Regions from separate parts of the Homo sapiens genome. Here region 2 is reported to be linked to region 1. Evidence: microRNA targets listed by miRTarBase, many of them from high-throughput screens and not tested one by one. Region 1 holds a microRNA gene; the other region holds the end of a gene's coding sequence.

Region 1 (4,386 bases):
TGCATGTGGAACAACGATGAAAAGAAGAAAATGATAAGTCAGTTTTAAAGAACTTTTCTTGTGTTTCAAGTGGAAAGAAGGCTTGAGAATTTTTTTACATTTTACTCTGGTGTAGAAGGACGGTGATATTTAAAGAGTTAGAATGAGCATTAAAACAAAGACATGAAAATAATCGAACCCATCAATTGTATTTTTATATGCTGGCACTAAGACCTTAAAAATAATAATGTATCTAATTCTCACAAAAATATGTTAAAATGAGGACTATCATGTCCATTTTAAAGAGACGAAATGGAGGCAGATAATTTGTGTAAAGTCAAACAGCTAGTAAGTCTTGGATCTGGGAGTTGAAGTTAGATCATTTGGCTCGAGTCTATCAGAGACCTGCAACCCTTTTCTGTAGTGCATCATATAGTAAATCTTTTGGGCTTTGCAGACATGCAGTCTCTGCTGCAACTGCTCAGCTCTGCTGTGTAGCATGAGAGCAGCCATAGACAATATGAAAATGAGTGAGTGTGGCCGTGTTCCAATAAAACTTTATTAATGAACACTAAAATTAAGTTCATAGAATTCCACATCACAAAATATTTTTCTTTTTGAACTTTTTCAACTACTTACAAGTGTAAAAACCATTTTTACCTTGTGGGCCATTGTTTGCTGACCCCGGGTCTATGCAGTTAACCTTGACCTTTTTCAACATGTTAAAGAGGTTAACCCACATTTACCGAGGGCCACTGACCTGGGCACTGTGTGGGGCGCTCCATGTCCTGGTCCACGGACTTGCTAGTCCACAGACTTGCTACCTTCATCTATAGGTAGCTCCTGCTACCGTTATTCACACTGTATAGATGAAGAAAGCAAAGCGGTCCTACTACAGGTGGAACAAGGACACGCAGCCAGCCAGGAACTGAGCTGACATCTGTTGATGGACAGGAAGGAAGGATTTGGGTCAGCCATCAAGACTCTCTCAGGACCTGAGGAAAAGGGCGGGAAACTTAGGAGCAAGATGACAGGAGGGCAGATGCTCCGTGAGGATGGCAGGAAGAGGACATGTATGCTTAATATTCTGGAAAATCCTCTGGGATAAGGCCAGGCACAGTGGCTCATGTCTGTAATTCCAGCACTTTGGGAGGCCAAGGCAATCGGATCATTTGAGGTCAGGAGTTCAAGACCAGCCTGGGCAACATGGTGAAATCTCATCTCTACTAAAAATACAAAAATTAGCTGGGTATGGTGGCGTTCACCTATAATCCCAGCTACTTGGGAGGCTGAGACAGGAGAATCACTTGAGCCCGGGAGGCAGAGGTTGCAGTGAGCAAAGATCACACTACTGCACTCCAGCCTTGGTGACAGAGTGAGATTCTGTCTAAAAAAAGAAAAAAAACTATTCAAAATCCTCCAGGATAAAACTCTCTGTTGAAGGAAGCTTTAATCAGCAGCGAGCACATCAGGCACACTCGTTGCTGCCCCTTCTCATCCCGCATTCCCTCTGCTTTGGTCAGGTGGTGCCCTCCTTCCATGGGTAGAGCCAGAGATGGTGGGTTCTGGCTGGTCAGATGGGAGTGGACAGAGACCCGGGGTCCTCCCGGCTTCATGACTGCACGTGGTGGGCCCTGCACTGTGTGTCTACTGGGATGGATCAAGGTGCAACCAGAGAAACCTTGAGCCCTCTCCAGATACTTGAGTGGTAGCTGAGTTCCTGCAGCCTCTGTGAGCTCCCTTCTGAGCCTCTGGCTCCCAGTTTCCCAGTACCCTTTCTGTATTAGCTTCCTGGGGCTGCCCCGACAAAGTATCACAAACTCAGGGGCTTCCGCAACAGAGATTTATTCTCTCACAGTCCTGGAGGCTAGAAATTTTTGGACTTCTAGCTTCCCGGACTTGATTGGCAGGGCCACACTTCCTTCTAAGGCTCTGGCTGGGGGTGGGGGTCCTTCCTGCTTCTGCCAGCTTCTGGTGATGCTGACAATCCCTGGCATTCCTTGGCGTGTGGGTGCATTACTCCAATCTCTGCCTCCCTCTTCACATGGTCTTCTCTGTGCGTACGACTGTGCATCCTCTCCTCTCGTAAAGGGCAGCAGTCGTTGGATTTAGAGCTCACCCTACTGTGGTATGATCTCATCTTAATGACATCTGCAACAGCCCTGTTTCCAAATAGGGCCACATTCTGAGGTTCTGGGTGGACATGAATTTTGGGGTGGGAAACACTCTTCAAGCCAGTAAATCTTCCTCCCCAAATCTTGCTAGGTTTCCAATGCCTAAAAGAAGTGCTAATTGGAGAAAATAAGAATAGTTTTCTACTTATCTCAGGAGCGGGAAAAGATGGCAAAATGGCATGGCCAATTTTGGAAAGAATATATAGGGTGTTGTAAAGATATGTGATGATGATGAGGATGATGTTTTCACCAATATTTGCAGCCTCTTGTCCACACAGAAGGATTAGGAAGATTAATGCCTTCGAAATCAGCTATATTTTAGCACTCTGTTTTTAGTGTTTTCATGATTATCCTGGTGTCCTTGTTTTTGAGGTGGCTGCTATAATTATGGTAACGTGTGTGAGTAGGTTAGAAAGATGTTACAAGTGATTAAGCTATAAATTAGTCACTTTGGAGTGTGTAATAGTTCTTTCAAGTCCCCAGCATATAAGGGAAAGTGACACTGGTCTACAATGACTGTCTCCATGCTTCCATGCAGAAATTGAGACCTGGAGAATGTAAAGACTTGCCCAAGTTCTGTGAGTGAGTCAGTGCTAGAAAAATCTTGAGCCCAGCCCCCCAGATGTGATGACTATTCTCTTTCAAATATTTCTACAGGATTAGAATGGGCGCTCAGGCTTGGCTCAGACACCCCACATCTTTAGGTGAGTGGCTTTTAAATTGCCATTTGGTCACGCCTACTTGGCAGAGTTGCAAACACGGGCTGCAGAGTTCACACCCGCACCCTCCTCTCTGGAAGTGGAGTGAGAACAGGGTGGGCAGAGGTGGGGCTGCCACACCTGCTTCCCTGGAAACCCGAGGGAGAGCACAGGACGCCAGGCTGGGACTCGGCTGGCAGCTGCTTCGGGCGTCTCACCTTGTGACTATTTCCTGGGCACTGTGGGAGAGGAGGCCTCTTGCCTGAGCTCCTGTCCCTACTGTCTCCTCTCACTAAATGCACGGCACGGCTTTGCGGTAATAGGCTGGGACATGTCAACTCTTTTTTTTTTCTGAGACGGAGTTTCTCTTGTTGTCCAGGCTGGAGTGCAATGGCACGATCTCGGCTCACGCAACCTCTGCCTCCTGAATTCAAGCAATTTTCCTGCCTCAGCCTCCCAAGTAGCTGAGATTACAGGCATGCGCCACCACGCCTGGCTAATTTTGTCTTTTTAGCAGAGACGGGGTTTCTCCATGTTGGTCAGGATGGTCTTGAACCCCCAACCTCAGGTGATCCGCCTGCCTCGACCTCCCAAAGTGCTGGGATTACAGGCATGAGCCACTGTGCCCAGCCAACATGTCAACTCTTTAGGAGAGTTTGAAGACAAAAAATAACCCATGTCTGAGCATGGGAGGTGCTAAAAATAGGAACTTCTTAGCTTCCACAAGGGCAGATAAATGAATAAATAGGCCATAAACCAATGTAGTTATTTCAGCTGGGGGATTTTATTTTCTTTTGATTGTCCCCTGGAGCTACGAAATACACAAATATAGACTGATAGATTTTTTTCATTAATTCGAAAAGCATTTAATGGCTGTCATCTATGTGCCAGGCAATTGATGCGCAGCCAGACTTCCAGGAGGCTGGAGGGGGATCCAGATGAACCTCCCGGAGTAGGATTGTCAGGAGGGGACTGGAGACCAGGGCCATCCTGAAAACCCCATCTCTGTTCCAGGAAATTCCTAGGATCCCCTGGGAGGCACAGCCTGGAGAATCCTATTTTGGTTGCTGAACAGATGCACACATTGGAATTGAGACTGCGTGTGCTTGGGGTGGGTCGGTGAGGCGGGGGCAGTGGGGTCCAGGTGGGAGCCGTATGGAAGCCCTCCCCTCCCCATCCTCCAGGCATGCCAGCGAGTGTGGCCTTATGTTGAGTGTGTCCTCCAGTGTGAGTGGCTCCTCCGAGTGTGGTCCAAGGACCCGCAGCATCAGCATCCCCTGGGAGAGCCTTGGAAATGCAGAATCTTGGGATCCAGCTCAGACCCAGTCAGAATCAGATTTCCAGGCAGCTCGTGTGCTCATTGATGTCTGAGAGGATCTGCTTGAGAACTCCACAGCTGGGGCTGACAAATCCCCCTCTGACCTCAAATTTACCTCCTCCTTCTAAAAAAGCCAGACAACCTAGCTCCCTGCCCACCCACAGCTCTTTCCAGTGGATCCAACTTCCTCTCACACCCAGTTTGAGCAGGGGGAGAC
Region 2 (4,386 bases), not on the chromosome of region 1:
TGGAATTTGAGTGCAAAGAGTAAGGAGGGAGTGAGACTGGAGACAGGGCCGGGGACTCCCTGGGCTGTGGCGGCCTTAGGGCCATGCAAGGGCCTCAGGCCAGGGGAGCCCCTGATGGGTCTGTGGCAGGCTGGGCTCCATCTGGGGAGATGGGAGTGTGGGGAATTCGGTAGTGCTTTTCTCTTCATGGCGTCACTTGCTTTTCCCTTTGCATCGGCCTGGGGCCCTGGGGCCTGATTTGCAGCATCAACAGCTTTTCCACTGCTGTGTGTCAGCCCAAGGGCCTTGTCACTGTGAGAGGGTAACGTGTGCCACGCCCTTCCTCCCCAGGGGCTCCATGTCCAGCCTGGAATCCTGCACCAGCGGCTTCTCCCAGCTCAGCGCCGCCACCTCGTCCTCCTCCTCCGGCCAGTCTCATAGCAGCTCCCTGGTCTCCAGATAGCCGGGCCCAGTGTTTCAGGGCCGCCCGCTCGCCTCCAGTGTCCAGAAATGTCCAGAATGAGAAGCCAGCTAACTGCAGGGCCTGGGACCATGTGGGCTGGAGCCCCAGGCCTAGATGCTGCCCAAGTTGGGGTGTCTGGAGCGGATGGCAAGGATCCAGAACTGGCCTGTGGGTGGTGTCAGGGCTCTTGAAATTGCAAGGACAGAACCATCTCCTTCCGGCTTCGTGTAAGGAAGACCAAGCCAAGGCCAAGGTGTCTACCATACCACACCTTTGGGACATCCGGGCTTAGCGACGTCAGCCAGGCCCATCTCCTCTCTGTCCACCTCTTGCTCTGCTTTCGCCATGCAGGGGACCATCACTATCAGGTGCCCTTCTCCTCCCTGCAGCTTGCCTGCATAAGAGAGCCTCTTCCTCCCAAAGGCTCCAGCCCACTTCCCAGAGCTGAGTCTTAGCCTGGAAGGGGGAGCGATTGCCAGGTCAATTCCTGAACCAATCACAGTTGCCAGGCACACTGGAGAATGCTGATTGGCCAGCAGGGTCATGCCCAATCTGGACCAATCACCGTGATCCAGGGTTGCAGTGAGGTGCAGTGATTGGCCAGCCTGGATCACATGCACATCTCTGGAACCAACCACCTGCTCTCAAAAGCACTAGTGGGTGCCTCGAGGAGTACTGGGGTCCCCCCTAAGAAGAAGGAGGAAGGATGCTGGGGAGGCAGAAATGAAGGGTGTTTACCTTGGCATCTGATTGCATAACGTTCTGTTATGCAGTATCAAGATGTGCTTGGTGAGCAGTTAAGTGAGTTACAGGCGCTGCTCTTTGTGGGGAACAGCACATCCTGAAGTGAAAATCCATGTTCCCTGCACTTGGCCAGCATGGCCTAAGCCTGACCATCCCTGATTGGAGAGGGTGGGAGAGCCCTGGGTTTCTGCTAAGTTCCAGGCAGTGATGGGGTGACTGAGGCTGTCTGTATACCCCACTGGAGATGCCTTTCTCTCCTAGGGAACTGTTTAATTATGACTGTTTTTGGTTGTAAGCCACAGAGACCCATGCCCAGGTGCTTCAACACAAAAGCATGATCATTCATGGGTGCATAGAACTGGCCAGTCCAGGAGGGCTTGCTTCAGGTAAGGCTAGATCCAGGGTCTCAACATGGAGTCTCGATTCCCCCCGCGAGTGGAGGCTGCTGTGTTTGCCCTGGGGCAGATATGACTCTGGAACTAGGTTCAATATTGACATGAGTTCCCCTAGTTACTACACAGGAGCGTCTTGGGTCTCCTTGGGGCCTGAGGACATTTCTCCTTTCCTTTCCTGGACTCCCCAAAAGGCAGCCAGTCAGGGGTCACCAACTTGAAGCCTGATCTGGCCTGCTTTTAGTGTTGCTTTTTTGCCTTTAGAATGGTTTAAAAATTGAGGCATTTCGCATCGAAATCAGGATTTCTGGCTTCCCTTAGGCATTTGGGAGCACCAGCAGAATGGGGTCACTATTGTTGCATGAAGACAACACCTCTGCACCCCTGGATGTGGCCACGCCAGTCCCTACCCCATTGACTTGCGCCCAGCCCACATTACACATCCTCATGACCTGCGTGGCAGGAGTCTCACTGACATGGCTCTGTCAGCAGTGGCTGGTACCCTTGTCTCCTGGCCTTGCTTAGAGTTGGGGCTCATCTCTGCTGCAGTAACTGAGCCAAGGGGTGGTTTTGTGGCCACAAGAATCATCTTTATGCAGGCTCAGCAATGCAGGGCCAGGAAACTTATATCTACGCCAGCCTCAACCCCAAACCCAAGGAAGAGAGAAAGTGTCATCTTTTCAGATACATCCTTCTTCCTGCTGGGAGAGAGCCTTGCCCACCTTCCTGTTGGCTCTCTGTCCGCTTCTCAGGTATCTGAACAAAATAGATTGCTTTGCACTCTGCGTCAAGGTGTGTGTGCACATGTGTGCATAAGAGACCGACTGATTGGAAGGAGACGTTCTCAAAACTAATTGCTCCCATATCACCAGGCATTTATTGCTGAGAGCAACTTGCAATATTTTCAACTATCTTTAAGTGAATTTCTAGCTTTTCTCTTAAAAACTAGGTGTTATCCTACAAGTATGCTGGGATAAGCTGCCCTGGCAGTCTTTATACATTTATTGTCTAGCCCCAGAGAAGGACACAGAAGCCTTTTACGGAAGGAAGCTGGAACTGCCTGTTCCAGAGGCGGGTGGGGGGAGGGGAGTCTGCTATCAGCTGTCCACCCTTAACAGTGGGGGTGAGGAACCTCAGGCCCTTTCAGTTCTGCTCTTGAGAGTGCTCTCTCCCTAGGGAAAACCAGCCCAAACTGGCTTAAGCAACAAAGCAAATTCCCTGGGTCCTGTACTAGGGATGGCTGAAGGTGGGTGCTGCTTCAGATATGGCTGGATCCAGGAGCTTAATGTCCTCAGGCCTCTCAACTGCACCCAGGCCTCTTGACTCTGCATCTCTTTGCATGCTGACCTCATTCTTTCTTCCACCTGGCGGGAAAGATGGCTGCCAGCAGCCCCAAGCCTATAATTTCAGGATTCACACTCTAAGAGATGCTTTTCCATCTCAAATCTCATGGAAGGCTCTGATTGGCCCAGCTCGAGTCACATGCTTATTCCTGTGGGCCACACTGGCAAGGAACTAGGGTCCCGTGATTGACATTCCCTGCAGAAGCCGCAGCAGGATTGGGGAGGGCCATTCCCCCAATGGACAAGAGAAGCTGGACCACAGAACCAGCAGGTATCCATGGTGGCATCTGCTACGGCCGGCTCTCCTCCCATGTGGAGGTCTCGGGGACCCACGTGGAAGCATTATCAAGGTCATTCTTCTTGCCTTCGGGAGGACTGGAATTAAAAATAATCCAAGGAAGGGATTGCCAAGCTTTTGGCTTTTGAATTTCCCCTGAGCCACAAAGGCTGGAAGTGCCTTGGCTTGGGCTTCTTGCATCATTAGTTCATTAATCCATTGTGACCAGGACAGAAGCAACCCACAAGCAGCATTACTGTTGGTGTTTGGGCACCTGGGCCTTGAATTTAGGCCAGGACTCAAACCCCAGCCTTCCTTTCACTAGCTGTGTAACCTTGACCAGGTGACTTAACCTCTCTGTGCCTCAGTTTCCTCATCTGTAAAGTGAGGATAGCAGTGCCTACCTCAATAGGTTGTAGTGGGACGAAATGAGGGAGTAGCTGTAAAGCTTTCAGCACAGCTCCCAGAACACAGAAAGCGCTCCATTAATGTCAGTGGTCATTCTGATTACTTAATGCTTCGCATCCAAAGACTCGTTTTCTTCCTGAGGTCGCCTATCCCTGTTTTTCGTTATTGCACCCAGAGAAAAGTAGGTGTCAAGAATTATTGCCCTCTGAGTTGGGTGTGCAGTCTTTCTCTTTTAGAAACTGCTTGTGTGGGCGGGGCGTGGTGGCTCATGCCTATAATCCCAACACTTTGGGAGGCTGAGGCCGGCTGATCGCTTGAGTGCAGGAGTTCAAGACCAGCCTGGGCAACATAGTGAGACCCTGTCTCTACAAAAAATTAAAAAATGAGCCAGGCGTGGTGGTGCGTGCCTATAGTCTCAGCTGCTCGGGAGGCTGAGGCAGAAGGATTGCTTGGAGGTCAAGGCTGGAGTGAGCCATGATCTCACCCCTGTACTTCATCCTGGGTGACAAAGCAAGACCCTGTCTCAAAAAAAGAAGAAAGAAGCTGCTTGTGTTTTCTGGGTAAGTCCACCCATCTGAGGGAGTGTATTCTGAGTGGTATTTCCCTTGGCAGTTAGAAAATGTTTTTTCCCAGAGGTTGAAGTATGGAGAGTTTGAGACTCTTTTTTTCTACCCTGCACTCTCTGGAATTCCCCCTCCCTGCTGTAAAATTTATTGTCCAATGAGAATAGTATAATTGTTTTCAACAAAGTCTCTTTGAGCCAGTGAAACACGATGGGTT

What was found. The annotated mature microRNA hsa-miR-6131 reads GGCUGGUCAGAUGGGAGUG and lies in region 1 at 1,547-1,565, shown strand. An mRNA with a match to its seed (bases 2 to 7 or 8) in the 3' UTR can be bound and repressed. Matches are read on the target gene's strand: a 7mer-m8 pairs with bases 2 to 8, a 7mer-A1 pairs with bases 2 to 7 and ends in A, and an 8mer does both.
Region 2: miRTarBase lists SEC14L5 as a target of hsa-miR-6131. Seed matches in the 3' UTR shown: 7mer-A1 at 1,912-1,918, 7mer-A1 at 3,185-3,191 and 7mer-m8 at 3,939-3,945.

The regions. Positions count from the first base shown.
Region 1 is chr5:10,476,561-10,480,946 of GRCh38, forward strand. MIR6131 (microRNA 6131) reads left to right here and starts at 1,477; the gene lies at 1,477-1,585. It also overlaps a transcript of ROPN1L not described here.
Region 2 is chr16:5,014,529-5,018,914 of GRCh38, forward strand. It overlaps SEC14L5 (SEC14 like lipid binding 5), which reads left to right. Exons shown (of 16, transcript NM_014692.2): 16 at 331-4,386. The coding sequence ends at 442. Among named protein-coding and RNA genes, the nearest start is that of NAGPA-AS1, 17 kb to the right of the region's middle.